Linked DNA regions of Homo sapiens. The protein of the gene in region 2 interacts with the protein of the main gene of each other region in a pairwise test. Each region holds a gene or a part of one and is shown on either strand. Other genes may lie near its edges.

Region 1 (7,028 bases), about 120 Mb from region 2:
CTCAGCCCACTGCAATCTCTGCCTCCCGGGTTTAAGTGATTCTCCTGCCTCAGCCTCCCAAGTAGCTGGGATTACAGGCGCCTGCCACCATGCCCGGCTAATTTTTGTATTTTTAGTAGAGACGAGCCTGACCTCACCACGTTGGTCAGGCTGGTCTCAAACTCCCGACTTCAGGTGATCCACCCGCCTCGGCCTCCCAAAGTGCTGGGATTATAGGCATGAGCCACTGTGCCCGGCCCACAACACTTTCTACTTTGAGGTTTGCCATGGAAATTTAATGAGTTGATAGATGCATAGTATGTATCAGGGGCCCGGCAAGTCATAAGGGCACCGTTGATATTAGCTGCTATTATTTTTAACCCATTTTATAGATGAGGAAACGAAGGCTCAGAGAGAGGTGGGCCACATTCAAGGCAGTGGTGGAGGGGAACTGTGAAATCGGCTCTCGGCCAAGGGGCTCCTGACTTGTCAGATCATCTCTGCCTGGATTGGAGAGGGGTGGCCAGATAGAAGCCAGGAGTGGCCAGAGGAGAGAATCAGGGTAGGGGAGTCAGAAGGAAGATAAACAGAATATGTGTCGGGGGAGGGCACCAGAGAGTCTTCAGGGGGCACAGGATTTGAGGGGGTGGGAAGGGTGGGGAGGCAGCTCCCCTGCCCTCAGCCTCCTACTCTCCCACAGGGACCAGCAGAGGGTGCTCTGTGGCTCAGCTTCAGCAGAGGCTGCTGGCCCTGCTGACACCCCTCTGCTGCTCCCAGGGCTGTGCCCAGCTGCGATCCTCCCATCTCTGACTGGGTCCTACCTCTCACCCAGATTCCCGCTTGCCAAGTGCCCAGCACAGGCTGCTGGAAGATGCGGCTGGAGCTAGAATCAGGGCTGGGGGACATAAGGTAGGCCTTGGCTTGGCCTCAGCTTCCTTTCGGAGAGTGGCTGAGGGCATTGCCGAGATGGAGAGGGCCAGGCCCCCTGTCCTAGAACAGTTGTTCAGGAGAAATGGAGCAGAAGCAGAAATCAGAGAACCCTGGAGTCAGCTACCGGCCTGAAGTCGGGGAGGCCTGGCCACTCCATCCACTGCTGGGAGTGGATTATCTGTCCTGCTAATCCCAGACACTGGAGGTGGCTAGGCAGCTGTCATGCTAGTCTCAGTCACTGGAGGTGGCTAGGCAGCTGTCCTGCTAGTCCCAGTCACTGGAGGTGGCTAGGCAGCAGCCTGGGAAGATGTGGCTGTGCTAGCATCTATTTCTGCAGCCCCGGGTTGGGGCAGGGATGAGTGGGCGGCCTCCTACCTGCTGCTGTCTTCCAGGGCCTCTGCTGAAGTTTTCTCCACAGTCCTCCTTAGGGCTCATGCATTTATCTCCAGAAGTCCAGTTACCTCCTTGCCATCCCAAGCTGCCTGCCTCCTGGATCAGGGCCCACGCCTCAGCAGTGGTCTGCTTCTCCCTCGTCCTGATCAACACGAGGCTAGCCTGTCATCCGTAGGCTGCACCTGCCTGTTAATATTCCCCCTCATGGCTGCTCCTTCTCTCTTGCCCATGTCCCTATCATCTTCCCTTTGCCAGGCACTGTGGCCTCCCATGCATTATCGTTTTTATCCTCTCAGCAGCCTTGTAGGGCAGGAATGTGAAACTGAGGCTCAGGGAGATTTGCCAACTCCAGGGGCCCAAAGGTAAAATGTGTGGGAGGGGAGGAGACATTGAGCCCTAGACTGTCAGAGCCATAGCCTGTATCCAGTTGCAACACAAGACTCACCCCTCTGCTGTAGAATCTGGGCCATGCTCTGCTTTCACCTACCCACCCTCTACCTGGCCCTTGGCCGGATCCCACTCCTGTGGGACCTGAGGGTGGGAGATGGGGTGCCAGGCAGCCAGTGGTAGAACGTTTAAGACTCAGGCATTCAATGGAGACCAAGCCTTGGCCTATTAGGGCCACCGGACCCTGGGATCTGTGTCTTTCTTCCTAGGGGAAACTTTTCCTTCTTTCTGTATCATTCCATCAGATTGATTCAGGGGAAGGGCCACCTACCCTCAAATAAGTAGAGAGCCGAAGAGCCCTGAGTAGCCAGATGCCATCTCATGCCTCCCTCTGCCCCAGTGTAGCCAGGTGCCAACCTCCCTCCACCCAGGCCTTCCTTGGCCCCCCTGCCATGTGTCTAAAAGGGGATGGCAGAGGGGATCAGGTGTGGCTCATGACCCTGGTGTCTCCACCCTGGGTCTTCTCTCTCTCAGCCCTTGGAAAGAGATAAAAAAACTCCCTAGCCCAGAGGGAAGACTGTCAAGTCAGGATGCAGGGCTTTAGAGAGGGAGCCTTTAGGCCTGACCTTGTGGACACTTGACACCAAGACCTGCTAGCTGTGGGGGATGCACCTGTCTCTAGTGTTTGATCTGACCGCTGATCTTTGCCTTCTCTACTCCTCCCCCAGGTGGCCAACCTCTTGAGGCTATTTCAGATCCCACAGATTAGCTACGCCTCTACCAGTGCCAAGCTGAGTGACAAGTCCCGCTATGACTACTTTGCCCGCACAGTGCCTCCTGACTTCTTCCAAGCCAAGGCCATGGCTGAGATTCTCCGCTTCTTCAACTGGACCTATGTGTCCACTGTGGCGTCTGAGGGCGACTATGGCGAGACAGGCATTGAGGCCTTTGAGCTAGAGGCTCGTGCCCGCAACATCTGTGTGGCCACCTCGGAGAAAGTGGGCCGTGCCATGAGCCGCGCGGCCTTTGAGGGTGTGGTGCGAGCCCTGCTGCAGAAGCCCAGTGCCCGCGTGGCTGTCCTGTTCACCCGTTCTGAGGATGCCCGGGAGCTGCTTGCTGCCAGCCAGCGCCTCAATGCCAGCTTCACCTGGGTGGCCAGTGATGGTTGGGGGGCCCTGGAGAGTGTGGTGGCAGGCAGTGAGGGGGCTGCTGAGGGTGCTATCACCATCGAGCTGGCCTCCTACCCCATCAGTGACTTTGCCTCCTACTTCCAGAGCCTGGACCCTTGGAACAACAGCCGGAACCCCTGGTTCCGTGAATTCTGGGAGCAGAGGTTCCGCTGCAGCTTCCGGCAGCGAGACTGCGCAGCCCACTCTCTCCGGGCTGTGCCCTTTGAGCAGGAGTCCAAGATCATGTTTGTGGTCAATGCAGTGTACGCCATGGCCCATGCGCTCCACAACATGCACCGTGCCCTCTGCCCCAACACCACCCGGCTCTGTGACGCGATGCGGCCAGTTAACGGGCGCCGCCTCTACAAGGACTTTGTGCTCAACGTCAAGTTTGATGGTAATGGTGTTGGCCAGTGTCCATTGGCCTGCTGGCTGTCAGAGGATGAGGGGAAGCAGAACTTCAGCTTCCATTCCTTTGCTAAGGAAACAGTAGAGTGAAAGTAAAGGACTCACCTGGGGTGGCGTCAGAGCAAGGGCAAGGATGCTAGGCAGAGAGGACTCCAACTGAAGCTACGGCTGAGGTTCCACTTTCTTCCAGAGAGTAGACCTCTGGCCTGGTCCCGCCATTTTGAGGGTCTCTGGCTCCTCCTTGGGCCTTGCCCACTGTCTTCTGTCTCCTTATCTTGCCAAAGGTGGAGACCAGGAGACCTCAAGCCCATTCTCAGGCAGCACCAAGAGTTAGAATCAGTCTGGCTTGAGGGTGAGCATCAGGATGACGCTCTATATTCACGGAAAATGTCTTTCTGTCTTTCTTTTTTCTTTTCTTTCTTTTTTCTTTCTTTCTTTCTTTCTTTCTTTTCTTAGATGGGGTCTCACTATATTTTGTAGGCTGGAGTGCAGTGGTTATTCACAGGCACAATACAGCCTCCAACTCCTGGGCTCAAGCGATCCTTCTGCCTCAGTCTCCAGAGTAGCTAGGATGACAGGCATGTGGCACTGCTCCTAGCTTCAGGGAAAATTTCTATTCCTAATCTTGATTTTCCACTCAAGGTGACCTGAAAGTCTCCTGAAATCAAAAGTTATTTTAATAAGAGTGCCAGCTTTAAGAGAAATGACTGCTGCAGATCATCACTATGCTTCAGGAAGAATCACCGTGGGAACAGTGGGAGACAAAGCTTGGAAGCCCTGGCCCAGGGTTAAGATGAAGAGTACTTCCAATAGAACTGACATTCAGAGTTAGCTACAATCAGTGTAGGGGTTAGGGTTGGAATCTGGGGTCCGATTTGGTTGATGTTAGAGCAAGGCTAAATTCAGCATGTTTGGCTTGGGTGGAATTTATGGTAGGGCTAGAGTTGGATTTTGAGAACTTTTAGGCTGAGTAGAAAGAGTAGGTGCTTGAGGGGACCTGGGTTTGAATCTAGGCTGCACTATTCACTCATGGGGCCTTAAGCATGTCTTCTGCTTTCTTGAACCCTGATTTCTCACTGGGGCCAGGGATGGCTGTAAATCCTGGCTAGAGCCTGGCTGGGAGATGTGAGGTTTACAGGGGATGAAGTGGGGGTGGAGAGAGGAAGTGATTTTCCAGCCACTGACCACATTCTGGTGAATGGCAGTGGTTGCAGGTGACCAGTGAGGTTGGGATTCAGTTTGCACCAGGATGACTGTTAGGACTAGGGGTGCTGGAGCTGGGGTTGTTGTTAGGATTAGTGGGGACAGGATTGGAGCTGAGACTGGGTTTAGCCTTAGCATTGAGTTTGGGGAGAGGGCTGTAGTGTATGTTTCGATGAAGTTGGGATTTGGAGCCTGGGTTGGAAAGTGTTGGATAGTACTAAAGTTGAATTTGGGGAGTCATGGTTGGGGATTGATGTGGGCATTAGGTTTTTGGAGATGTCTGGGCTTTAAGGCTGGGATTACATTTGGCATTTAGGGTTGGGGTTTGATGTTGGAGTTTAGGAGTAAGACTTTGTTGTCATCTCTCATTTAGAAAAATGATTGGGGTCAAGGCAGGATTTAGTATTGGGTTAAGGATTGGAAGGGCTAATGGTGGTCTTAGCTCTGGCATTTGGGTTCCATGTTAGGGTGAATGTTGAGGTCACATCAGGGTAACACACTAGTCCAACCTTCTCTTCCTTCCCTCCCCCATCCTAGCCCCCTTTCGCCCAGCTGACACCCACAATGAGGTCCGCTTTGACCGCTTTGGTGATGGTATTGGCCGCTACAACATCTTCACCTATCTGCGTGCAGGCAGTGGGCGCTATCGCTACCAGAAGGTGGGCTACTGGGCAGAAGGCTTGACTCTGGACACCAGCCTCATCCCATGGGCCTCACCCTCAGCCGGCCCCCTGCCCGCCTCTCGCTGCAGTGAGCCCTGCCTCCAGAATGAGGTGAAGAGTGTGCAGCCGGGCGAAGTCTGCTGCTGGCTCTGCATTCCGTGCCAGCCCTATGAGTACCGATTGGACGAATTCACTTGCGCTGATTGTGGCCTGGGCTACTGGCCCAATGCCAGCCTGACTGGCTGCTTCGAACTGCCCCAGGAGTACATCCGCTGGGGCGATGCCTGGGCTGTGGGACCTGTCACCATCGCCTGCCTCGGTGCCCTGGCCACCCTCTTTGTGCTGGGTGTCTTTGTGCGGCACAATGCCACACCAGTGGTCAAGGCCTCAGGTCGGGAGCTCTGCTACATCCTGCTGGGTGGTGTCTTCCTCTGCTACTGCATGACCTTCATCTTCATTGCCAAGCCATCCACGGCAGTGTGTACCTTACGGCGTCTTGGTTTGGGCACTGCCTTCTCTGTCTGCTACTCAGCCCTGCTCACCAAGACCAACCGCATTGCACGCATCTTCGGTGGGGCCCGGGAGGGTGCCCAGCGGCCACGCTTCATCAGTCCTGCCTCACAGGTGGCCATCTGCCTGGCACTTATCTCGGGCCAGCTGCTCATCGTGGTCGCCTGGCTGGTGGTGGAGGCACCGGGCACAGGCAAGGAGACAGCCCCCGAACGGCGGGAGGTGGTGACACTGCGCTGCAACCACCGCGATGCAAGTATGTTGGGCTCGCTGGCCTACAATGTGCTCCTCATCGCGCTCTGCACGCTTTATGCCTTCAAGACTCGCAAGTGCCCCGAAAACTTCAACGAGGCCAAGTTCATTGGCTTCACCATGTACACCACCTGCATCATCTGGCTGGCATTCCTGCCCATCTTCTATGTCACCTCCAGTGACTACCGGGTGAGCTACCTGCCACAGAGGTCGGGGGAGATGGGACACCAGACCCTCTGTTTCCTGGTATCTTATTTAATCTACTGGTAGCTCTGGGGTTCCAAGAGGATAATGCCCACTCAGGGGACCACAGCTTGTGTGGATCCCAAGGGGAAGGTGGGAGGGCTGAATAGGACCTAGGGAAATGGCCAGGGAGGTGGGGAACTCGAGTTAGAGAGAGCTGAGATTTCAGGACTTGAATGTCATCCCCTATCCTGGAAGGTGATGGGGGTGCAGAAATATGTTCAAATGGACAGGGTTCTGCCCTGCTCCACTGAGGGGTCATCTGCAGAAGGGGTTGAGAGATGAAGCCAGGGAAGGCAGGAAAGATGAAGCAAGGTGGGTAGGGGAGGAGATCCAGGGTATAGAGTTGAGAAAAGCTAAAGCAGGTGAAAATTGTTCCCCAGTTGGTGGCTTCTGAGCAAATTTGGTTCCAACTGGCACTGTGTCTCAATGGGTCTCCCCAGCTCCAAGGGGCAATGGCTGCTTCAGATAGGGTGGTCAGGGAAGCCCTCTCTGAGGAGGTGACAGATGAGCTATGTTCTGAGTAAGAAGATTATCTTGGTTAATCTTCATAACTTGAGTAAGCTCCATGGCTCTCCCGTTTTACAGATGAAGAAACAGAGACTCAGGGAGGTTCAATCCCTTGCCCAAGGTCACTCAGCTTGGGAGTGCAGAGCAGGGTCTGAACTGCAGAAAAATTGAGGCGAAAGCCCCGGCAAAGGCCCCTTCCCCAGGACAGAGGTGTGGTGGCACAGTGCTGGGGGCCAGGGACCGCTGGGCTTGGCTGCTCTGCTTGCACCTGCTGGGCCACCTGCTTGGGTGGTAGAGGCCAGGGCTGGGGAGGGATTCTGCTCTGACTCAGCCTGCATTTGCATATGATTTGCATTTGCATGCCAATCACAGGCAGCTAAGG
Region 2 (7,282 bases):
TGATCCGCCCGCCTTGGCCTCCCAAAGTGCTAGGATTACAGGCGTGAGTCACTGTGCCCGGCCTATGCTATACTTTTACATGAGTGGCAGCATAGTAGCTATTTTTATATCAGCATCAACACAAAACATGTGAGTAATGTCTTATGCAAGACATTTTGACAGCTATGATGTTATGACAGCTATGACATTATGACAGCCATGACATCCCTAGGCGATAGGAAAATTTTGGCTTCGTTATAATCTTTTGAGACCACCTGTGTTTATTCAGTCCACCATTGATTGAAACATCATTATTCAGTGCATGACTATGGTGTATTAACTTCTTATTCTCTTTCATTTCTTATCCTGGTTTTGACTTTTATTTTGGAAATTCTCATAATTACCATCATTTCTTATATCCTTCTAACTCTTAATGTTTTGCTCTTGCAGTTAAAACTCCCTACTTTCCCTCATCACTTTTCGCTTTTAAGCTTTAATTTGTTACTTTTCCCAACTGAAAATTTTCTATCATCTTCTTTGCTAATCTATGTCTTTGTTTTCTTTGAGACTCTTTTATTCACCCTTTCTGATGATGGTAATTTTATTCATTTTCACAAAATTCATTGCAGGCTCAATGTGTGCTAGGAACTGGGCTAGGTGCCAGGAACTTGATGACTACTTTTAAAGTGTCTTTGGCATAACAGAGTGTCAGGAGAGAAATACACACACACACACACACACACACACACACACACACACACACACATGTATATGTCTCATATATATGAAAGATATGTATATATGTGTATATATGTATATATACATACATATGAATATATATACACATAGATATGAATATATATACACATAGATATGAATATATATACACATAGATATGAATATATGTGTATGTGTGTGTGTGTGTGTATATATATATATATATATATATGAGAGAGAGAAGTAAGAGAGAGAGACAGGTTCTCAGTCTGTCACTCAGGCTGGAGTCCAGTGGTATGATCATAGCTTACTGCAGCCTCAAACTTCTGGACTCAAGCAATCCTCTCATCTCAGTCTCTTGAGTAGGTGTACTACAGGCACACACCATCATGCCCAGATAATTTTTGTATTGTTTGTTCACACAGGATTATGCTATGTTGACCAGGGTGGTCTTGAACTCTTGGGCTTAAGCGATCCTTCTGCCTCAGCCTCCCAAAGTGCTGGGATTACAGTCGTGAGCTCCTGTGCCCAGTCTGAGAAATAATTAAGAAGTACAGTAGTCTTCCTGAATCCACACTTTTCCTTTCCACAATTTGTTATCAATGATCATCGTGGTCCAAAAATATTGAATGGAAAATTTTAGAAACAATCAATAAGTGTAAAATTGTGCATCATTCTGAGTGACTTGATGAGATCTCATTCTGTCCTGCCCAGGATGTGAATCATCCGTATGTCCAGTTTATTCACACTGTAGGTGCCTGTTAGCCACTTAGGATCCATCTCAGTTATCAGAAGGACTTTCATGGTAATTTGGTGCATGTTTTCAACTCTTATGTTACTTAATAATGGTCCCAAAATGCAAAAGTTATGAGGCTGGCAATTCAGATATGCCAGAGAAAAGCTGTAAAGTGATTTCTTTAATTGAAAAGATGAAAGTTTTGAGTTAATTAGGAAAGAAAATTTTATTGAGGTTTCCAAGATCTACTGTAAGAACATACCTTCTATTTGTAAAATTGTGAAGAAGGAAAGAGAAATCTGTGCTAGTTTAAGCTGTCACACCTCAGACTGCAAAAGTTACAGCCACGGTGTGTGATAATTGCTTAGTTAAGATGGAAAAGGCATTAAATTTGTGGGTGGAAGATATGAACACAAATGTGTTCCGATTGATGTCATTTGGGTTTGGTACTATATGTGGTTCAAGCATTCACTAAGGGTCTTGGAATGTATTCTCCTGAGGTTAAGGGGGCCTACTGTACCTATAATATAATGTGACAAGAGCCATGGTGAAATGAAAAGTTTAGAATTGTTAAGGGGTGTCTGGGAGCACAAGGAAGGGACCTGAACTCAGACTGAATTCAACAAGAATTTCTGCATATGAATTCAGCAAAAGGGAGGTGAAGAAGTTTTTTAGGCATGTGCAAAACTCACCAGGTATGTTAAAAAACGTCCTGGAAGAAATTTTCCAGGCATGCACAAAGACCCAGAAGGAGAAAGAAAATATGTGTGCACATGGCACTTTATTAGTATTGCAACTGATTCTTTTCTACTCAATCAGTATTTATGTTACTTTCTGTGAACTTACGAACTTAAGACCTTTCTGGTGTTTATATTTGTATGGATTTTTTGTTATCGTTTAAGAATAGGACTTCTCTATTCCACTTTCATCGTAATTTACCACATGCTATAATTCAGCTCATAGATAATGGGTGCTTTATAACTGTTATTGACTAATTTCAGTGCCTGGGGCAGGTCTGTAAATATATTTCCAAGTTTGTCATAATGAGTGAGGATTGATATGTGTGTTGGTCCTTTTAAAGTGAAGTAAGAATGTGATGATTACAGTGTTTTATTGGCAAACATTCAATTTCAAGTTACTGTTGGTAAAGTATGTAGCATGGTGTGTATATATATATATTACAGTATGCAATTGCTATAGGCAAAGGGTTATTCTATTCTGGAGCAAACCACAACCCAGATTTTAAATCAGAGGCTCCTGGCATTATAAAGAGAGAATGGGTTTTCAATGGTCCAGCTCCCTCATAGAAGAAACTGAGACCTAGAGAGGTAATAAATGAAAGAGACAACTCCCAATTGCAATCAGAAATTTTTAATGTCATGTTTGCCTTTATTTCTAATACTTTTGAGAAAAACTGTTGTTTGACATTTCTGTACTTTACACAACTTATATAGTCAATTTTTACATTAGTAAGCTAGCACACATAATATATAGATTTTTTCAAATTAAAAAGCAATGGATTATAAAGAAAGGAGCTTGAGCTTCATATACATATATATGTGTGTAACTACAGCCTATATATATATATTAGCTGCAGACTAATAAAAATGTTTTTATATATTATATATTTGAATATAATAATATGTAATTATTACAATATTAAATATATAATATATAATTTGTAAAATATTAATATATATGAATATGAATATATATTTATATTCATTTATTTACTAGTCTAACTACAGCCAAAGTTAAGGATTTCTAGAGGGAAGAAAGTGGAGATTGTTTTTTATTCTAGGTGCCTTATGGGGGACAAAGCTTAAATAAATTGCCTTAATTCTGTGATATCTTTGCTTTCTCACATACAAATGAATATTTAAAGATACGTCTCCAATTTGTTGCTCTTGTTTGCTGGGAATTATTTTTGTTGAGTCACAACAGTTAATCTAAGTTAATATTCACCATGCTTCTATTCAAAAGGCAATGCAAATATCATGACTCTCCTTTTACAAATGAGGACCTTGAGGCAACTCAGGATTAGGTTGAACAGTTTTTTTCAGGTCTCTCAGTTAATAAGTTGCATAACTGATGTCAGTACATGATCTGGGACATCAATGCTGCAGTTCAGCATTCATTCCACTCATCAGAAGAACAAGAGGGAGAGAAGGAAGAAGAAGGAAAAGGAAGAGGAAAATTAGAAATTGTTTTTTGTTTATTGTCCATTATTCACAGTGTTTAGCACAGCCATACATTAGTGTTTTCAATCTTCGTACTAATCATACATACTTCATACATACTAGATATTATTCTATTTTATAGTTTAGGAAACTGAGTCTCAAAGAAGTTATATTCTTTGCTTACAGTCACACAGCAAGTATTAGAGATAATCCAAAACTTGTCTTCACACTGCTGCACAAAACTGACTCTGAGCTGTTCCTTATTTCCCTATGGTTTAAAAAATAAATGTCGTGTAATACACTTTAAATTTGATTTCTGTAGGAAAAGTAGATTAGAAACACTCAAAAACAAAGAAACCAAACTCTGTGAAGCTTGGTGTACTGGTAATATCAATGCTCTTTTAGGGGAAAATATAAATATGTTTCTGGACTAAAGTGAAAGTAGAGAATTAAAAGTTTATATCAAAACTGAAACAAAGCAATGTTTTGTGAAGTACACTTTAATAGCCATACAGTGGATCAAAAGATATGATCTCACTTCATAGTAAAACAGGTCCTGCAAGCCCAGGTAACTCAGGAAGCAGAATGGTAATTATTCACAGAAGAAAGCAGGTAGTATACTGTTACAATACTACAGTAGAAAGTCAGAAGGTCACAAAGCTTGCAGGGTAAGTGACACAACTTGAAACTGCTTGGCCCTCTTTAAAAAGAAATAATAAAATGGGAGAGAATGAAGCAAGTTTACCTAACACGTCTTTGCAAGGTAAGTACCAACAGCCTATGAACTTTTCACTTTTCACAATCAGAAACTTAAGCAGTGTTGATTACAAAGTCTGTGTGTTTCTGTGTATGCACACACGCATCCCTGCATGCATGTTCAGGTGCCCTGGCCCTGTTTTTAAGGTGTTTTCTGCGAGCGAGAAAAGAGGTGGAGATTGTTGATTCAGAGGAAGCATGTTTTCTCAGTTGTTTACAAAGACTCAGGCAACACAGAATCACAAATTTGGGGGACCCGTGGAGGGTATGGAAAGCTTTATCCTTAATCCCCAGTATAATGTTGGAGAAATGGTATAACCAACTTCCAGTGCATTTTCATGTTGGACCTTTTCCAACATTAACAGAACCTTGATTTTTGTCTCTACCTGTGGAGTGTTTATTGGTAATTAAGTTTTGCCATCTCTGGAGTTTACCAGCTCAGTTTCCCTGTAATTAATATAACCACTTTTTAAAAGGTAGAAAACAGGGGAACATGGGCGAGCCTATCAGTTAGGAGGCTGTGATTTATTTCACAGGTGTTGCTTAATCAGATACCTTTGTCCTTTGAAAGGACTGGCTTTGTTGACATTGGCTTGACTAGGCATCTCTGGTTAGAGGCTTGTTCACCGAAACAAATTTAAGGTCGCTCACATTTCACATTTTTGGGTAACAAAAGTTATTTCTTAAAGAAGAAAAAGAAAGTAGATATTGGGCCTAATCAATATTTGTTATAGACTTCTAGAATACCATGAGATCACATAGATCTGCATGATCCTAAAAATATATCACCTATTTTATAGTTAAATTATATTTTTCTTTCATTTCTTTAATCTTTTCTCTACATAGCCTGCTTAAGAATCCCCGTATCTTTTTTTATCTCTGTATATTTCCTAAAAATCTTTCTTGAAATACTGTGTAAAATGCTACTATAAAGCATTTTTAATTTAAAAGATTAATTTCAAAAGTCATGTAATAAATTCTATTGAAGAAAAACAGTAAGGTAAAAGGCTCATTTAGCATAATGAGAATCATTTATTTCTATGTGTCTTATGGACAAATGGTATTATGTACAAGATTATAACATATTCCTTATTTGTCTCTAATATTTTTCATTGGAAAGTATATGGGAAGCCTCTAGTTTGTTCCAATTGTGCATATGATAATGATTTTACATTAAATGTTTATTACTGTTTGGCAACCACCTAAATAGCCTATTCTAGGCTGTGTGGGTGCATCACCTGTCTGTATTCAGCGATCAAAATAAACTAAGGAGTAACCAGGCCTCTTTCCATTTCACTCATTATCCCTCTTTGTGTTAGGATCATGGGTAATATTTTTTTAATTGAATCCCAGATTGTGTATACATTTTGTTGTTGTTTCTTTCTTTTTCTCTGGTGCTTTTTATGTATATTATGTTTCTGGTAATACATATGTTTCACTGTGTAAGGATAGCCTTCCCTTTCCCCTATCCATATATATGTATAAAACTACAATTATTTTCAGAATTATTAATCAGAAAACCATGCACAAAATTCAACACAAGTGATATAGTAAATAATTTGAATGGTGTGCTTTAAGTTCAAGAACAGTGTGCCTAATCTTTAAGCCTTTTGTAGTTGGGTAAAACTTGTGAAATCAGTTATATACTAGGGAGTTTTTGTTTGTATACTCTGAAAACTTTTCAATAAAATATTTATTCTCTTCTGATCTTATTCATGTTTAAATGTATCCTTGGTAGGTCTGTAAATATTTCAGATCTATCTTCTTGGAGTATTGAAGTGCTTCCCTACCAGTTATATTTGCATCAAGATTCTTAAGAGCACCTATTAATCAAGTGAGGGTTAAAAAGAACCGATGGTAGTTCAGTTGTTGGTTTCGTTTCTGGATTTCTTTACATTATAAAGGCAATGGAATGCCTTAACATTTTTCTGTTGTCTGTGATACCCTGTCCAAAATCTGAAATTGAGTTTCAAAATGACCAAAGTGAATGAAAAGTTATTTTCTAGTGTTCAATTTCACCTTTGACTTAATGACATTTATAAAAAATTCTGAGGTTCTTTCAAATAATACTCATTGTCAGCTCCACTTACAAACGGATGTTCTTTAGTGGAAATAACTATGTTAAAATAATATGTTTTGTATATTAAACATGTGGATGACTTACGTGTTTTGACTATGAGGATAATATATTATGTAGATTATCATTGGAACTCCATCAAGTGCTTTGAATAATGATTTTCTAAGGCCATGTATCTAGATTTTCTAGATTCACTGAATGATCTCTAGTTACAATTTGAAAGGCTAGCCATAGATATTATCAATGATTATTCATCACAGTGCTTTTTCTGTACATCTCTGACCCAATTATACTCTCAGGGGGTTAGTTGCATGTGCCCTGGTTAGTGGAGCCCATATGCCATTAACATTTAGTGTTTCTGGTAGTATTGAGAACCCATTTTTTTTTTTTCCTGAATAAAAGTGAAGTTATTCCAAGGTTATCTTGAGCTGTGTGAACAGATTTTAATTAGCTTTTCAAACATAAAAAGGAATCTCCTCTTTTAGTCCCAATGACAAGGTAACCCCAGCGGAGAATTGTGTAAAGCTATCATACATGAAGGTTCATAATGTCCTCAGGATTCATAAAATAAATTATCTAGGTAAGGAGAGAATGCTAGAATTTTTTTCTAAACGTTGCAAATATGAATAAAATTGTACAAATAATATGGCATAAGGAATAGGGGTAAGTGCTTTCTAAGCATTGTTATTTGTGAAGGGAAGGATCATTTTTCTTGCATAATGCCTGCAAACTCACCTGCACCACTGAGTGGCACTCTATCACTCCATCAGTCTGTAACAGGAGTAGAGGGAGGGACATGGCTGGGAGATGGGAGGGTGACAGCTCCCTTCCTGGAAG
Region 3 (6,355 bases), on a different chromosome or scaffold from region 2:
CAACAAATTTGACTATATGAAAATGTCAAACTAAAATAAATAATAGCTAAGAAAAGAATTTGGAAAAATATTTGAATCAAGTGGAATAAATCATGACTCATCCTAAATATATAGTTTGTACAAATTAATAAGAAATACATAGATTATAATAAATATGTGAAGGACATGATTAGAATGGTTCACTTAGGAAATAAATAGATTTTCCATCTTATTTATAAACAAGTGCAAATTGAAATGAGGTACCATTTTACCTCACTGCCTATTACAATGGAAAATATATGTTACCGATGAACATCTCTAAGAAGACTGTGTTGAACCTTATACTCTCATACAATGCCAGTGACATTCTAAACTGCTAATCACTGTAAACATTTGTATCAAGCAATAAAAATTTTCATTGCCTTTGTTACAAAATTTGTATTTATAACGTGTTTTACAACATATTTATATAAATGTTATATTTATACATATTTATATAAATATGTTATATTTGTACATATTTATATGTATATAAATACATATTTATATGTACTTATACAAGAGCATTTATGTTATAAAAACAATATAAAAAAGTCATAAGTGCAATTATTCATTACAAATTTCTATAACAGTTAAAAATACTAGAAACATCCTAAATATCCATATTTAAGGGTTTAGAAAATTAAGCAACATAGACTCATGTGGATTTATATGATATTAATTGAGAATACTGTGTACACTCTAATTACAGATACGACTTTGAAACACCTGTGTAAAAAATGTGAAGAATATCTGAAATGGAATATTTAAAAATAGAAAATCTAAAAATAATGAGATTACAAATAAATACTTTTGAAAATGTCCTTCACTGGCTAAGTTTGGTTGTGTAGGGGTAGCAGGTCCAAGATGACGACTACTTCTTTATTCTGTAATGTATTAGATGGCTTTTATGATTAAACATAAAAAGGCAAATACAATTTACTTAAAATGTTAAGATTCTTTGTACAGAAAAATTAAAATTAGAAAAAATAAGTTATAAGAACTTAAATATAACCTGTAAAGGGGCAGAAATAAACCTACTCTCGAAAACAATTTAGCCCGAAGCATTGGATATTTATTTAAAGTATCTCCTCTGTTTTCAGGCTTGTGCTAATCACCCTGATGAGTAGAAAGAAGCTCCCCCTCGCCCTGAGAAGTTCATAATCCCATGGGCAAGGCAAGACGGAGCCACGTAACAGTTGCCCTGGCTCCAGCAGTGCAGAGAGAGGAAGTCCTCTTAGGGATGGAGGTTAGAGAAGGCTCCCAGGGGTGGGATGGAGGAAGAGGGAAGACTTCTTCTGCTTTGTCCACACCTGTTAGAGAGCATGGCCAGGATTCCCAGCCTGTAAGGGTGAGTGTTTCTATTAGTTGACTTGTGTGTAATCCTGTGGGGAGTCCTCCTGAAGGGTGAAAGAGCAGTCTTGTGAAGTTGGCCTTGGTCACTGAAACCGGGCTGGGCACCCCAGGAGACCGGGCCTAAGGCAGTGTCCCTGGCTCTGACCTTTGCTGTTTCTTCTCATCCAGACAAGTTCAGTAAGGCCCATGGACAGCACCCAGGCCTCAGCAGAGAAAATTCAGCATATGCTCTGGGCCACAGACTTCCCTTGGGTATGAGATGATGGCCCAGGAAGCAAGTAGCTCTGTGATTTTTAAAATAACCTACTTCTACTTCCCCTCAACCCCCTTCCTATATTCCCCTCTTGGTCTGCTTGCCCCATTCTTTGTTTTCACCCGGCGGCTTCTCTGCTGTTCATCTCTAGCTTTCAGGATCACTCACACTCTCTGAGCCCGCAGACTGAGGTGTGCCTGAAGGGGTGAAGTCCAGCAACACTGGGTCTGTCTCTGATGGTCTCTGGGCTCTGGCAGGCAAGCACTGCCCCTGCTAGCCTTCTAGGGGAGGAGGCTGCAGCCCCCTACTCCACCCCGGATGTGGGCACCGCTCACCAGCAACCACATGCTCAGACATTAGAAAAGCGGCTCTGGGGTGGGTCTTCAGGGGAAAACCAAGCCCGGAGGCTGAAAAGCCAGTGAAGGGAAGGTCCAGACCATTCATTCCCTAGGCTCTTCTCTTCCCTGCCCATCTTGTAATTGGTGTGGGAGAAATTCTTGACAGGAGCAGCCTAAACACTGCATACCCAACCCTCTGTGAGCTCTAGGACCATTTTCTTTTTGAGATGGAGTCTCGCTCTTTCACCCAGGCTGGAGTGCAGTGGCTTGATCTCAGCTCACTGCAACCTTTGCTCCTGGGTTCAAGCGATTCTCCCACCTCAGCCTCCTGAGTAGCTGGGACTTGCGCGTACCGTGCCCGGCTAATTTTTGCATTTTTAGTAGAGACAGGGTTTCACCATGTTGGCCAGGCTGGTCTCGAGCTCCTGACTTGAAGTGATCTACCCACCTCGGCCTCCCAAAGTGCTGGGATTAGATGTGAGCCACTGCGCCCGGCCTCTAAGACCATTTTCCAAATCCTTCCTGGGGATCTCCGTGTGCCAGAGGGACCCTGAGCGAGGGTGACCTTATGTCCCAGTTTGCCCAAAATAGTCCTGGTTTACGGCCCAGGTTAATTCTGATAGTGCCCCTTTCACTCTCAGAAACATCCTGGTTAGATGATAAATTATTTCATGACCCCACTTCAACATCAAACTGAACACATACACACATGTGCCTCTCTGTGTTCTTGGCAGTTAAGGGGACAGCGTCCATATAGTCCCTAAGCAGAGAAACCCCAGGCTTATCTTTGACTCCTCTTTGTGAGACCTATGATGTTACAATTATCTCTTGAATATACCCTCCCATTTCTGTCCCCACTGCTCATGATCTATTTCAGACACAAATAATTACAACCTACTATGGGGTCTCCCTGGCTTGAGCCTCTCCCTTCTCCATAGTTCTGCCAGCGATCTTTTCAAAACACAGATCGATGCCTCCTGGCTCCCCATGACCTATAGATTGAAATCCAAATCCCCTCATGATCCTTTCCTGCTTCATCTCCTGCCCCCACCTTCCTACCCTGGGCTCTGGCAGACTGCTTGTCCCCTGAAAAGCCCACATTCCTACTCATTTTGGTATACTTGTTCCCTTTACTCCCTCCTCCGAGTCTGACCCTTTCTTCTCTTTTCTGCTGCTCTTATTTGACTTTCAGCTCCTTCCTGGGACTGATCTCAAGTGTCATCTCCTCGAAGGCCTTTTCTGATTCAGCCCTCCCGTCAAAAATAATCACTCCCCCTCCACTAAACCCTAAGAGGGCTTGGTTTTTAACATTTACTACAATTTGGCCCCTGCATAAGATTACATAAGATTCTGCTTATGTAACCATCTCTCCTGCCTATGCAACAAACTGCGAAGGCCAAGAATGGCATCTCTTGCAGTGCCTGAAACAGTGCCTGCTTCATGGAGGAGTTCATTGTTAACAAGTCTTAATCGAACAAAATTGATAATCCACCTCAAATTTTCCACACCGGGTTGCCCGGCACATCAGCCACTCATACCTGGGAACACTGGGGACAGACTCAGAGGGCACTGTGACATCAGTTCTACCACAATATCTTGTGGAAGGGATATCTGCTAAGAAGAATTCAGATGTAAGTGGCTGCATGCCTCCTTCAGGAGAAAGAGCAAGCTTTCCCTCACCCATCCTCTCCTCCTTAGGTCCCACTGCCTCCTCAGGGTCAGACTTCATTCCCCCTCGTCTTTATGAATCCTCCCCTTACTCTCAGTTTCTCAGTTCAGAAGGGATCTTGCTGCCTCCAAGCTCCTGACTCATAATTTAGGACAACTAATCTGGTGTTTCATTAGGTGTCATCTTTTGAACTGAGCTTACATCTGTGTCTGGCTTGACAGGTTTTTTAGGATAGGAGAAGACAGGGAAGAGGCAGATGTGAATCCCAGGTTTCACCCCTTTCCAGCAGGATGATCTGACTACACCCCTTCCTCGCTGCCTTAAAACCCTTTCGCGTGGCTTCATGAGGACCTGACTGGGTCAGAGAAGCCACTCATAGGGTGAAGACATGAGCCCCACATCTCAGGACGCTAACAACTGCTTGACTGCCCAGGGCGGGCTCCCCCACCCACCCAGATCTGCTGTGTCCCGGCAGTGGAGTCTTTCCTAGGGAACAGGTGGATTTGGGGTGGGGCGTGCCTTAGGCCCCATACTCATAAAATCCCGGGGCTCTGTCTTCTCACCTCTAAAACAGAGAAGACAGCAGCCGGTGGGTGCAGGTGGGAAGGGGTGAAGTGGAGGCTGAGAAGAGGTTAGGGCTCTCGGGCACCCACCACCTCTTGCAACGCGACCCTGAGACAGTGGGGCAAGTATCCCGATTTCACGAACAAAGAAACTGAGCAACTAATAGAGGAATGGGCCACGCTCCTACTGGGAGGCCGGGCAGGTCTCCCAGCCCTGAAGACTTTTCCTCCCAAGATTTAGATGTGAAGCCCCTTTTGCCTGTCCCTGCCCTTACCCCTCGGGTCAGCCCCAAATCGGAGGCCACCATCTCTCTCACAGAAGCCTGCCCCTCCCACCCCATCCCCTCCTCCCTCCCCTCTTTCCTGCCCACCCATTTGCCTCCGGCTTGGGTGGCAGGAAGGGAGGTGCAGGGCCGGGCGTGAAGAGCAAACCCCCTCCTGCTCAGAGCTGCTGCCGCCTGCGCCCAGGGCTGCACTCCGCGCAGGCCTCATAGCCAGGCCATGGCCCCCACAGAGCCCTGGAGCCCCAGCCCGGGGTCAGCGCCCTGGGACTACTCGGGGTTGGACGGCCTGGAGGAGCTGGAGCTGTGTCCGGCCGGGGACCTGCCCTACGGCTACGTCTACATCCCCGCGCTCTACCTGGCGGCCTTCGCCGTGGGCCTGCTGGGCAACGCCTTTGTGGTGTGGCTGCTGGCCGGGCGGCGGGGCCCGCGGCGGCTGGTGGATACCTTCGTGCTGCACCTGGCGGCAGCTGACCTGGGCTTCGTGCTCACGCTGCCGCTGTGGGCCGCGGCGGCGGCGCTAGGCGGCCGCTGGCCGTTCGGCGATGGCCTCTGCAAGCTCAGCAGCTTCGCGCTGGCGGGCACGCGCTGCGCGGGCGCGCTGCTGCTGGCGGGCATGAGCGTGGACCGCTACCTGGCCGTGGTGAAGCTGCTCGAGGCGAGGCCACTGCGCACCCCGCGCTGCGCGCTGGCCTCGTGCTGCGGCGTCTGGGCCGTGGCGCTGCTGGCCGGCCTGCCCTCCCTGGTCTACCGGGGGTTGCAGCCCCTGCCTGGGGGCCAGGACAGCCAGTGCGGCGAGGAGCCCTCCCACGCCTTCCAGGGCCTCAGCTTGCTGCTGCTGCTGCTGACCTTCGTGCTGCCCCTGGTCGTCACCCTCTTCTGCTACTGCCGCATCTCGCGCCGCCTGCGACGGCCGCCGCACGTGGGTCGGGCCCGGAGGAACTCGCTGCGCATCATCTTCGCCATCGAGAGCACGTTTGTGGGCTCCTGGCTGCCCTTCAGCGCCCTGCGGGCCGTCTTCCACCTGGCGCGTCTGGGGGCGCTGCCGCTGCCGTGCCCCCTGCTGCTGGCGCTGCGCTGGGGCCTCACCATTGCCACCTGCCTGGCCTTCGTCAACAGCTGCGCCAACCCGCTCATCTACCTCCTGCTGGACCGCTCATTCCGAGCCCGGGCGCTGGACGGGGCCTGCGGGCGCACCGGCCGCCTGGCGCGAAGGATCAGCTCAGCCTCCTCGCTCTCCAGGGACGACAGTTCCGTGTTCCGTTGCCGGGCCCAGGCCGCGAACACTGCCTCGGCCTCCTGGTAGCTGCCCCGGGCCGCTGGAGGTGGGCGGCAGCGGAGCATCGAGAGGAGGCCAGAGGTCCCGGAGGGGACTGAGCTCCCCAGACGCGCCTGTTCTGGCGGCAGCAAGCTGCTCGGGCCGGCATCGCATTTCCTCGCGCGCTGCCTGGACTCCCAAGGCCTCCTCCATCGGTTTCCCCGGAACCTCAGAACAATTGAACTCCCCTAAACCAGGCTCCTGTGACTAGCTGTTCCCTCTCAGCCTGCAGGGTACCTGAGCTAATTTTGTCCAGTCCAAGATAGGTGCTATGAGATGTAGCAGACAGCAACTCGGAGACCCGCAGATTCACCAAGTAGACAGAAGGGAAGTGGGTTTCCTTCTCTGTCCCATCGGGAAGAGAACCCACCAGAATATCTAACCCAGACCCCCAAATGCCATTCTGATTTCTGGCTGTGCTTTCTCCCGTCTCCCACAATAGCCGTTGCTTTCAGAGAAATACCTTCTCCAAGTCAGACCCCCTGCCCTTCTCACTCACAAAACCCTTGCATTGAATCTGGTGACACTTCTCCCCCTGTGAAGCGGCAGGACTCACCTG

Evidence for each region.
Region 1: the proteins of NAALADL2 (region 2) and GRM2 interact in binary tests that used the Homo sapiens proteins (3 or more experiments, as listed by UniProt).
Region 3: the proteins of NAALADL2 (region 2) and GPR25 interact in binary tests that used the Homo sapiens proteins (3 or more experiments, as listed by UniProt).

What each region holds. Positions count from the first base shown.
Region 1 is NC_000003.12:51,710,056-51,717,083, forward strand, and holds part of GRM2 (metabotropic glutamate receptor 2 isoform a precursor), read left to right. Parts: intron 1-643; exon of another isoform or gene 644-1,664; intron 1,665-2,417; coding exon 2,418-3,255; intron 3,256-3,908; coding exon of another isoform or gene 3,909-3,928; exon of another isoform or gene 3,929-3,969; coding exon of another isoform or gene 3,970-4,066; exon of another isoform or gene 4,067-5,006; coding exon 5,007-6,082; intron 6,083-7,028. UniProt on the Homo sapiens protein: Dimeric G protein-coupled receptor which is activated by the excitatory neurotransmitter L-glutamate. Plays critical roles in modulating synaptic transmission and neuronal excitability.
Region 2 is NC_000003.12:174,855,076-174,862,357, forward strand, and holds the start of NAALADL2 (inactive N-acetylated-alpha-linked acidic dipeptidase-like protein 2), read left to right. Parts: upstream 1-4,258; 5' UTR 4,259-4,332; coding exon 4,333-4,375; exon of another isoform or gene 4,376-7,282. UniProt on the Homo sapiens protein: May be catalytically inactive.
Region 3 is NC_000001.11:200,868,340-200,874,694, forward strand, and holds GPR25 (probable G-protein coupled receptor 25), read left to right. Parts: upstream 1-4,641; 5' UTR 4,642-4,698; coding exon 4,699-5,784; 3' UTR 5,785-5,839; downstream 5,840-6,355. UniProt on the Homo sapiens protein: Orphan receptor.